Regions from separate parts of the Homo sapiens genome. Here region 1 is linked to region 2. A link means that fine-mapping ties the variant in region 2 to the expression of a gene that starts in the linked region. Tissue or cell type: testis. Region 2 holds a variant in brackets; the other region holds the start of a gene. All regions are shown on one strand. Distances are from middle to middle.

Region 1 (5,145 bases), 310 kb after region 2:
TTAGTAGAGACAAGGTTTCACCATGTTGGTCAGACTGGTCTCGAACTCCTGACCTCAGGCAATCAGCCCACCTCGGCCTCCCTAAGTGCTGGGATTGCAAGCATGAGCCACCGTGCCCAGCCCAAGACCATCTTTTAAAATATGGCCTGGATGGGAGTCAGGGAAACTGTCCTTGAAGTCTGAGCACCTTGAGATCTAGCTGTGTGACCAGAGGGATGTTGTCAGCCTCTCCAGGACTTGTTTTTTTTTCAATCTGTTCATCTTGGACCATCTGCCAGGGCTCCACCCAAAAACACACCCCAGCTCTCCCGTGCCCTGGGAAGGGTTCTAACCGCATCTTGGCAGAAAGTTCACTCTGTTTGATGCGGCTGATGAGTTCCCGAGCCTTGTCCTCCAGTGTGTTTCCAAACTCCTTCAGCTTATCCAAGGCACTGGAGACGTCTGGGGTCCCCTGGGCTGGGGCTGGGCCTGCCAGGAAGATGGGCAGGGGTTCAAAATTTGTTTTTTTTTTTTTTTTTTTGGAGATGGAGTCTTGCTCTGTAGCCCAAGCTGGAGTGCAGTGGCATGATCTCGGCCTACTGCAACCACCACCTCCCGGGTTCAAGCAGTTCTCCTGCCTCAGCCTCCCAAGTAGCTGGGATTACAGGTGTGCACCACCACACCCAGCTATTTTTGTTTTGTTTTGTTTTGAGACGGAGTCTTGCTGTGTCAGCCAGGCTGGAGTGCAGTGGTATGATCTCGGCTCACTGCAACCTCCGCCTCCCGGGTTCAAGTGATTCTCCTGCCTCAGCCTCCCGAGTAGCTGGGCCTACAGGCGCGTGCCTCCACACCTGGCTAATTTTTTTGTATTTTTAGTAGAGACGAAGTTTCACCATGTTGGCCAGGCTGGTTTCGAACTCCTGACCTCAAGTGATCTGCCCGCCTCGGCCTCCCAAAGTGCTGGGATTACAGGCATGAGCCACCCTGCCCGGCCAAAAATTTGTTATTGGAACCCCCTTAGGTTGGGATACCGGGATGGATAGAGATCCTTGGGGATCATGTGGTTAGAATGGGGAGGAATGGCCGGACGCGGTGGCTCACGCCTGTAATCCCAGCACTTTGGGAGGTCGAGGCAGGCGGATCACAAAGTCAGGAGATCGAGACCACGGTGAAACCCTGTCTCTACTGAAAATACAAAAAATTAGCCGGGCGCGGTGGCGGGCGCCTGTAGTCCTGCTGAGGCAGGAGAATGGCGTGAACCAGGGAGGCGGAGCTTGCAGTGAGCCGAGATCGCGCCACTGCACTCCAGCCTCGGCGACAGAGCGAGACTCCGTCTCAAGAGAAAAAAAAAAAAAAAAAAAAAGAATGGGGAGGAATACTGGAGTGACCTGGTGGGGCTCAAGCTGCTGGGAATTGCCTTACTCAGCACTGACCTCTCCCAGAGCCCCCCACCCAGCTTACCCACTTTCAAGGCTGTCGAAGCAGGACAGCCAATCCCAGAGGTGTGGGCCTCAATACGTCATCGGTTGCTAGTGCTCTCCTGCGCAGATTTGGCGCCTGCGGGACTGAGCCTGGGAGAACCTGGAGACCCACCCGACCACGATGAGGCAACCACGACCCAGAAGGGGCCCCGGAGCTCTCAGAGGTCCTCTAAGCCGGGACCCCAGGCCTGTAGCCACCTTCACTCTTCCAAATCTCCAACTCCGCAATTCTCCCATCCCACTTTTACCTTCCAAGACGATCGACAGAACCACCACCAGGACCGGGAGCGACAGGAAGAGCCTCATGGCGAGGCCGGAGGGGCACTCTGGAGGCAGAGGCAGGGGTTCAGGGGATCAGTGGCACCCTCCTCCCTCCCTACCTCCCTCCCACGATCCCCTCATCTCCCTTTTTGAGTTTCTTGCAGAGTGTAGGCGGGTGTCCCTCCCAGGCACTCAGCACCAACCTGAATCCTTGCTGGAGGGCTTGGTTGGGAGGTCCTGTCCTGCCCGCAGGACCTTTATCAGGCTGGGGAGGGGGCGGGGCAGGTTGATGTTGATCTCCCTCCTCCTGAGCCTTCCCCTGACCGCCTGCCTCCCTCTGTCCACCCACGTTTTTCTCCTCTGCCCCTGTCCCGTGAGCGTTGGGGTCAGGTGGGGTCCCGGGCACTTCCCTTAGCCCCAAAGCCCCTCCCCGTTCAGCACTCTCACCTCTCAATCTTCCTGACTCTGTGGGGTCCTCAGACCACCTTAGTCCCTTTCCCCACTCAGAATGTAGCAGGAGGAGCCGCAGACAAAATTCCTCAGACGCTGAGTTAAGGAAGGGGTTTATTCGTTCGGGGAATGGGCAAGATTCCTGTCTCAAGAGCCGAGCTCCCCGAGTGAGCAATCCCTGTTCCTTTTAAGGGCTCACAACTCTAAGTGGGTGCACGTGAGAGGGTCGTGATCGATTGAACAAGCAGGGGATGCGTGACTGGGGGCTGCATGCACCGGTAATTAGATCGGAACAAAACAGAATAGGGATTTTCACAGTGCTTTTCTATACAATGTCTGTAATCTATAGATAACCTAACGGATTAGGTCAGGGGTCAATCTTTAACCACCAGGCCCAGGGTGTGGCGCGGGCTGTCTGCTTGTGGATTTCATTTCTGCCTTTTAGTTTTTACTTTTTCTTTCTTTGGAGGCAGAAATTGGGCATAAGACAATATGAGGGGTGGTCTCCTCCCTTAAGAAGACAGCCTTGTCCTGTCCCTGTGGCCATCTTCCCTCAGGGGTCTCCCAGTAATAACCCTGTGATCTCATCCCCCCCTCATTCACACCGTGTCCCTAGATCACCTCTTTCCCTCACTTCCCCTCTCTCAGCAAGCCTCCTCAGCCCCAACAACTTTTCCTTTATGTTGCTGGGTCTCCCAGTTGGCCCGGCGCTCCTACCCTGCGTGCCACCTCCAATTTATTCCAGACCAGCCCTTGAAGCACCCCAGACCACCGTGATATTCTCTGGGCTCTTAACTTCATGGTTCTCAGTCTCCCTTTTTTGGGAGGGGAACGGGTCGCCTTAGCTGGATGACACTGCAAAAACCTCACCTGCATTAGCCAGGCATGGTGGCTCATGCCTGTAATCCCAGCACTTTGGGAAGCTGAAGAGGGAGGATCACTTGAGCCTGGGAGTTCGAGACCAGCCTGGGCAATATAGGGAGACCTCATCTCTACAAAAAAGTTCAAAAATTAGCCGAGCGTGGTGGCGCATGCCTGTAGTCCCAGCTACTCAAGAGGCTGAGGTAGGAAGATTGCTTGAGCCCAGGAGTTCGAGGCTGCAGTGAGCTGTGATTGTGCCACTGCACTCCAGCCTGGTGGGACAGAGACCCCATCTCAAAAAATTAAAACCCTCAGCTGCAAAGCTCTGCGTGTATGTCCCTTCTTCCCTTCCACCGGGCCTCACCCCCTTTGGCTGGCTACCTCCCCCAAACACTCTATCTGCTTTTATTCACCCTCTGACGCCCCTCCTGGCACCAAGCCTGCTTCCCACCATCACTACATCCGTCCCCCAAGGCTGGAGTCCAATGCCTTCCCCACCAGCTGCCTTTGACCGCCAGTGACCCTGGCAGCTGGTGGGGAGGGTGTCCTCCGCCTAGCCTCAGACTCTAGGTTGGCTGGCCTTGTGCCCCCGCAACCACGTGTCAGCCTGGCAGTAGGGGGATGGTTGTGAAAAGGACAGCATAGACAAGACCCTGGCAGGATTGCAACATCCCTCTGGCCAGCTCAGAGCTTCCAGTCCCTGTCAGCCCCAGGGGCCCCCCTACTTCCCCAACTAAGCCCAGCACCCCCCAAACATCCACCCAGATGTCTGCTTCCCAGACCCCACAAGAATAGCATAACAATGCTCCTGCTTTTCCAACCTCATCCTCCCCTCTGCTATAGGGGTTTCTCTTTAATAGATGGGGAAACTGTCGCATAACCAAGAACATCCAGTAGGGCTCAGCGAGGGGCAAAGATGGGGGCTACTGGCTGGTTGCAGTGGCTCACGCCTGTATTCCCAGAACTTTGGGAGGCCAAGGTGGGCGGAGCACTTGAGGTCAGGAGTTCGAGACCTGCCTGGCCAACATGGTGAAACTCCGTCTCTACCAAAAATTCAAAAATTATCCAGGCATGGTGGTGTGCACCTGTGGTCCCAGCTACTCAGGAGGCTGAGGCAGGAGAGTCGTTTGAACCCATGAGGTGGAGGTTGCAGTGAGCCAAGATTGTGCCACTGCACTCCAGCTTGGGTGACAGAGTGAGACTCCGTCTCAAAAACATAAAAAAAATTTAAAAAAGGGGGCTCTTTGTCCTTCTCCTTCCCAGGCTCCAGGATGTCTCTGTGGATGGTTGCTGGGTCAGCTCCTGTCCCATACGACTCCCTGCCAGCCTTTGTTCTGGAACCTCCTTCCCATCCTTGTCCCACCTCTGGATCTGACTGGGGATGTGGTGAGATAGGGCACCCTGTCTGCTTAGACATCTTCATAGGTTGGTGGGGCGTGGTGGCTCACACCTGTAATCCAACTACTTTGGGAAGCTTTGGCAGGAGGATCTGCTTGAGCCCAAGAGTTTGAGATCAGCCTGGGCAACATAGTAAGACCCCATCTCTACAAAAAAGTTTAAAATATGGCCAGGCATGGTGGCTCACTCCTGTAATCCCAGTGCTTTGGGAGGCCGAGGCGGGTGGATCACCTGATGTCAGGAGTTTGAGACCAACCTGACCACCGTGGTGAAACCTCGTTTCTACTAAAAATACAAAAATTAGCCTGGTGTGGTGGTGTGCGCCTGTAATTCTAGCTACTCAGGAGGCTGAGGCAGGAGAATTGCTTGAACCCGGGGGGCAGAGGTTGCGGTGAGCCAAGATGGTGCCACTGCACTCCAGCCTGGGCGACAGAGTGAGACTCCATCTCAAAAAAGAAAGAATTAGCCAGGCATGGTGGTGGGTGCCTGTGGCCCCAGCTACTCAGGAGGTTGAGGCAGGAGGGTTGCTTGAGTTGGAGGCTGCAGTGATTGATGATCGTGCTACTGCACTCCAGCGTGGTCGACTGAGCAAGGCACTGTCTCAAAAAAAAAAAAAAATTCTTAAAGGTGAGAACTCAAGGTTCGATTCTTCAGGTGGGAGATGTGGCTGATGCTGATTCTCTCATTGACATCTGGGGAAACTGAGGCTCTGAGA
Region 2 (5,145 bases):
ATGTGGTAGGGGGGTGGGAGCACTGAGGAGAGAGACTGCAGGGGGAGTGTGTTCCTGGCCGTAACACAAGCTCAACCCATGTTATACAGTGGAACACTCCCCTTCTCTCTGCTCAGAATCCTCCCACAACTCCCAGCTCACGCAGAGCAAATGCCAAAATCCCACTGTAGCCCCCACAACCCGGCACAATCAGCCCCTTCCCTCACTACTCTCCTTCTCAGACCTCATCTCCTGCCCTGCCCGCCACCCTCCCCCCACTCCTGGCTCTCCCACTAATCCCACTCCAGCCACGCCAGCCCCCTTGCTGTCTCTTAACCCAGCAAGTACATTCCTGCCTCAGGGCCTTTGCACTTGCCCTTCCCTCTGCCTGGAATGCTCTCCCTCTCACAGCCACATAGCTGCCTCTCATGCCTGTTTCAAGTCTTGTTTTGTTTTGAGACAGTCTCCCTGTGTCGCCCAGGCTGGAGTGGAATGGCACAATCTCAGCTCACTGCAACCTCTGCCTCCCAGGTTCAAGCGATTTTCCTGCCTCAGCCTCCCTAGTAGCTGGGATTACAGGCATGCACCACCACGCCCAGCTAATTTTTTTGTATTTTTAGTAGAGATGGTGTTTTACCATGTTGGCCAGGCTGGTCTCAAACTCCTGGCCTCATGTGATCTGCCCACCTCGGCCTCCCAAAGTGCTGGGATTACAGGTGTGAGCCACCATGCCCTGCCTCAAGTCTTGACTCAAATGTCACCTCAGTGCGACCTTCGCTGATTGCCCCATTTAAAACAGAAGCTCTGACTGGGTGCGGTGGCTCACGCCTGTAATCCCAGCACTTGGGAGGCCAAGGTGGGCGGATCACTTGAGGTCAGGAGTTTGAGACCAGCCTGGCCAATATGGCAAAACCCCGTCTCTACTAAAATTACAAAAATTAGCCAGGTGTGGCAGCACACACCTGTACTCCCAGCTACTCTGGAGGCTGAGGCAGGAGAATTGCCTGTACCCAGGGGGCTGAGGTTGCAGTGAGCCAAGATCGCACCATTGCACTGCAGCCTGGGTGACAGAGCGAGACTTCCCTCTCAAAAAACAAAAAAACAGAAGCCCCTAGACCAAACCCCCCTCCCGACTCCCTGCTATTTTTCTCCAAAGCACTTACTGCCACCTGCCATGCTATAGCGGTTGCCACCACGCCACCATGCTAATTTTTGTATTTTTAGTAGAGACGGGGTTTCACCATGTCGGCCAGGATGGTCTCGATCTCTTGACCTCGTGATCTGCCCACCTTGGCCTCCCAAAGTGCTGGGATTATAGGTGTGAGCTACCTCGCCCTGCCTATTTATTTGTATTTCTGGTAGAGACAGGGTCTCACTATGTTGCCCAGGCTGGTCTTGAACTCCTGGGCTCAAGCGATCCTCCTGACTTGGCCTCCCAAAGTGTTGGGATTACAGATGTAAGCCACCACACCCAGCTTGCTATCTTAAATATACAGACTTTATAGCAACAGCAAACACATTCTCAGGACTCACTGTGCCAGGTGCTTGAGAGTATCGGCTCGTTTAATTCTCACTGCAATCCTATGAGATGGGTTGTAGATTCATTTTACAGGTGAGGAAGATGAGACCAGCAAGTGGCAAAGCCCATTGCGAATCTACGGTCTTAGTCTATAAACCACTATGTATGTTTGCTTTTTTGTTTTTGTTAAATTGTTTTTGAGACAGAGTCTTGCTCTGTCACCCAGGCTGGGATTACAGGCATGAGCCACTGTGCCTGGCCTTATAAACCACTATGTATGTTTTGAGGGAGAGAGAGACACAGACAGAGAGAGCAGAAGCAAAAGAAACAGGGAGAGACTGAGAAAACAAGATAGGTGAGGGAGGAAGGAAAGGAGAGAGACTGGGACAGAGGGACAGAGGGAGAGACATCAGAACCAGCTAGAGATAGACTGTGCGTGGTGGCTCATGCCTGTAATCTTAGCACTTTGGGAAGCCAAGGCAGGCAGATCACTTGAGGTCAAGAGTTTGAGACCAGCCTGGCCAACATGGTGAAACCCCGTCTCTACTAAAAATACAAAAAATTAGCCAGGCGTGGTGGCAAGCGCCTGTAATTCCAGCTACTCGGGAGGCTGAGGCAGGAGAATCGCTTGAACGTGGGAGGCAGAGGTTGCAATGAAATGAGATCATGCCACTGTACTTCAGCCTGGGCGACAGAGTGAGACTCCGTCTCAAAAAAAAAAAAAAAAGGAGAGAAAAACAACCAGCTAGAGACATGAAGAGACAGGACACAGTGCTGTGCTCGCATGCCTGTGTGAGTGTGTGAACAGCTGTAGGCTTTTGAGGGAGTGTTTGTGTGTGTGTGTGCGCCGTGTGCATGAGTGTGCATGTGTATGTGAGCATCAGCCAGGGTGGGGACCCTGGGAGAATCACCAGGGCCCAGGCATTATGTGGGTTCCCT[C/A]ATGCCTTGCTCCATTTTTGGAGGTTCAGAAAACAGAGCTGGCCGGGCGTGGTGGCTCACACCTGTAATCCCAGCACTTTTGAAGGCTGAGGCAGGAGGATCGATTGAGCCCAGGAGTTCAAGACCAGCCTGGGCAACATAATGAGGCCTCTTCTCTACAAAAAATAAAAAACAATAAGCTGGGTGTGGTGGTGGGTGCCTGTAGTCCCAGGTACTTGGGAGGCTGAAGTGGGAGGATCGCTTGATCCCAGGAAGTTGAGGATGTAGTGAGCTGTGTTCACACCGTAGCACTCCAGCCTGGGAGACAGTGCAAGACCCTGTATCAAAAAAAAAAAAAAAAAAAAAGCCCTGCTGGGCACAGTGGCTCACACCTATAATCTCAGCACTTTGGGAGGCCAAGGCAGGCAGATCACAAGGTCAAGAGACCATCCTGGCCAACACGGTGAAACCCCATCTCTACTAAAAATGCAAAAATTAGCCGGGCATGGTGGCACGTGCCTGTAGCCCCAGCTACTCAGGAGAGTAGGCAGGAGAATCACTTGACTGGGAGGCAGAAGTTGCAGTGAGCCAAGATCGCGCCACTGCACCCTAGCCTGGCGACAGAGCGAGATTCCGTCTCAAAACAAACAAACAAAACCCAGCAACACATTAGACATGGTGGCTCTCACCTGTAATCCCAGCACTTTGGGAGGCTGTGAGGTGGGAGGATTGCTTGAGTTCAGCAGTTCAACACCAGCCTGGGCAATATAGTGAGACCCTATCTTTCAAAAAAAAAAAACCACAAAAAAACAAAAAAGAAAACTGGGCTGCTGTCAGGGTGAGAGAGCAGGTGCTGAGGCTGAGCTGAAGAGGGAATTAGACGCCCTCCCATGGATACCATCTTGGGGATATCTCCGAACTTCACATGCCCTGTGTCTACCCAGACTGCAGCCTCTCCCCCGACCCTCCCCCCGCCCCTGTCTCAGGGAGAGACCCACGGCCTGCCCATCTCCAGGGTCTCTGGTGTCCTCCAGATACCTCCCTTCCCTCCCCACAGGTGGTGGTCACTCACTTCATCCTATGAATTCTACCACTTGGATTCTCCTCTTCCCCTTCCTCACCCCCTTTCATCCCCTCCCTATCTCCACTTTCCCCTTTTTTCCAGCCTCCTCCATCATTTCTACCTCAGTCTCGTCTCCTCCCATCTCGGTAAAGCACAAATCTGACCCTCTCCCTCCCCAGCTCAAACTGGCCATGGCTGCCTAGTGCCCTCAGGAGAAAGCTGGGGCTTCTCCCCAAGCCCAGGAGGCCATGTGCAATCCAGCCCTGCCCCAGCCTCACCTCTCCCCTCCCTGTCTTATGCCTGGAATAAACCCCAATGCCAGCTTCAGGGTCGCACAGCTTCCCTCACCCCCAAAACACACACTTCGAAAGGCCCAATCTTGGTTTAATGCTCTTCTGTCACTGTCTTAAAGTTATTATTATTTTTTGTTTTGGGCAGGGGGAAAAAGAGTTTTGTTTTTGTTTCTGTTTGTTTTTTTGAGATAGAATCTTGCTCTGTCGCCCAGGCTGGAGTGCAATGGCATGATCATAGCTCATTGCAGCCTCAACCACCTGGGCTTACATGATCCTCTCACATCAGCCTCCTAAGTAGCTAGGACCACAGTGTGGGCCACCATGCCCAGCTAATTAAACAAACAAAAAAAAATTATAGAGAGGGAGTCTTACTATGTTGCCCTTGGCTCAAGCAATTCTTGAGCCTCAGCCTCCCAAAGTGCTGAGATTACAGGCATGAGCCACTGTGCCCAGCCCTTAATTAATTTATTTATTTATTTTTGAGACAGAGTTTTGCTCTTGTTGCTGAGGCTGGAGTGCAATGGCTTGATCTCAGCTCACTGCAACCTCCGCCTCCCAGGTTCAAGAGATTCTACTGCCTCAGCCTCCCGAGTAGCTGGGATTACAGGCGCCCACCATCACGCCTAGCTAATTTTTTGTATTTTTAGTAGAGATGGGGTTTCACCATGCTGGCCAGGCTAGTCTCGAACTCCTGACCTCAAGTGATCCACCCACCTCAGCCTCCCAAAGTGCTGGAATTACAGGTGTAAGCCACCATGCCTGGCCCCTTAATAATTTTCCAATGAGATCCGCCTGGCCAAAAGACGGTTTTTAAAATGGTGAACTCAATTCATTTGGTGCATTTGCAAGGTGCAATACTTTCCTTCATTTACCAGTGGAAGAAGTTAGAAATTAACTTCCCCCCAAAATCAGCAAATGGCAAACACATTTCCTTGAAAGTCACAGTCGCATATACAGTGCATTCTAGAAAAGAGGGGGCAAGACAGGTTCCACCCACTTTCACAAGTTTCGTCAAATACCGGATCTACTCAAGGGTGGAGAGAAAAGGCAACTTTCAAAAAGGAGGATGTTATTAACTGAGGCATTTACTATACTCCTTCCTAAGAGCTCCAGATGGGGAACATGTTTTCTCAACCAGACCTAGGAAGTGGAATGTGGAAGCAATCCGTCCTCCTTCCCTTAAGGGCTGTGCATAGTTAATGAATTTTAAAAATATGTCTTAAAGTTCTTACTTTTTCTCTTTTTTTTTTTTTTTTTTTTTGAGACGGGGCCTCCCTCTGTTACCCAGGCTGGAGTGCAGTATCATGATCATATTTCACTGCAGCCTGAACTCCTGGGCTCAAGCCATCCTCCCACCTCAGCCTTCTGAGTAG

The links. PIP is the estimated chance that this variant, and not a neighbour inherited with it, causes the effect.
Region 1: it holds the start of APOC1, and the variant in region 2 is fine-mapped to the expression of APOC1 in testis (GTEx, PIP 0.94).

What each region holds. Positions count from the first base shown.
Region 1 is chr19:44,911,513-44,916,657 of GRCh38, reverse strand. APOC1 (apolipoprotein C1) reads right to left here and starts at 2,050. Exons shown (of 4, transcript NM_001645.5): 1 at 1,925-2,050; 2 at 1,709-1,786; 3 at 333-468. The coding sequence starts at 1,766. RefSeq lists enhancers at 979-1,736, 1,737-2,496, 3,255-4,014 and a promoter at 1,911-3,037.
Region 2 is chr19:45,219,282-45,224,426 of GRCh38, reverse strand. All of the region lies in intron 8 of EXOC3L2 (exocyst complex component 3 like 2), which reads left to right. Among named protein-coding and RNA genes, the nearest start is that of EXOC3L2, 24 kb to the left of the region's middle. The variant C/A (reference allele first, on the strand shown) is at 2,438.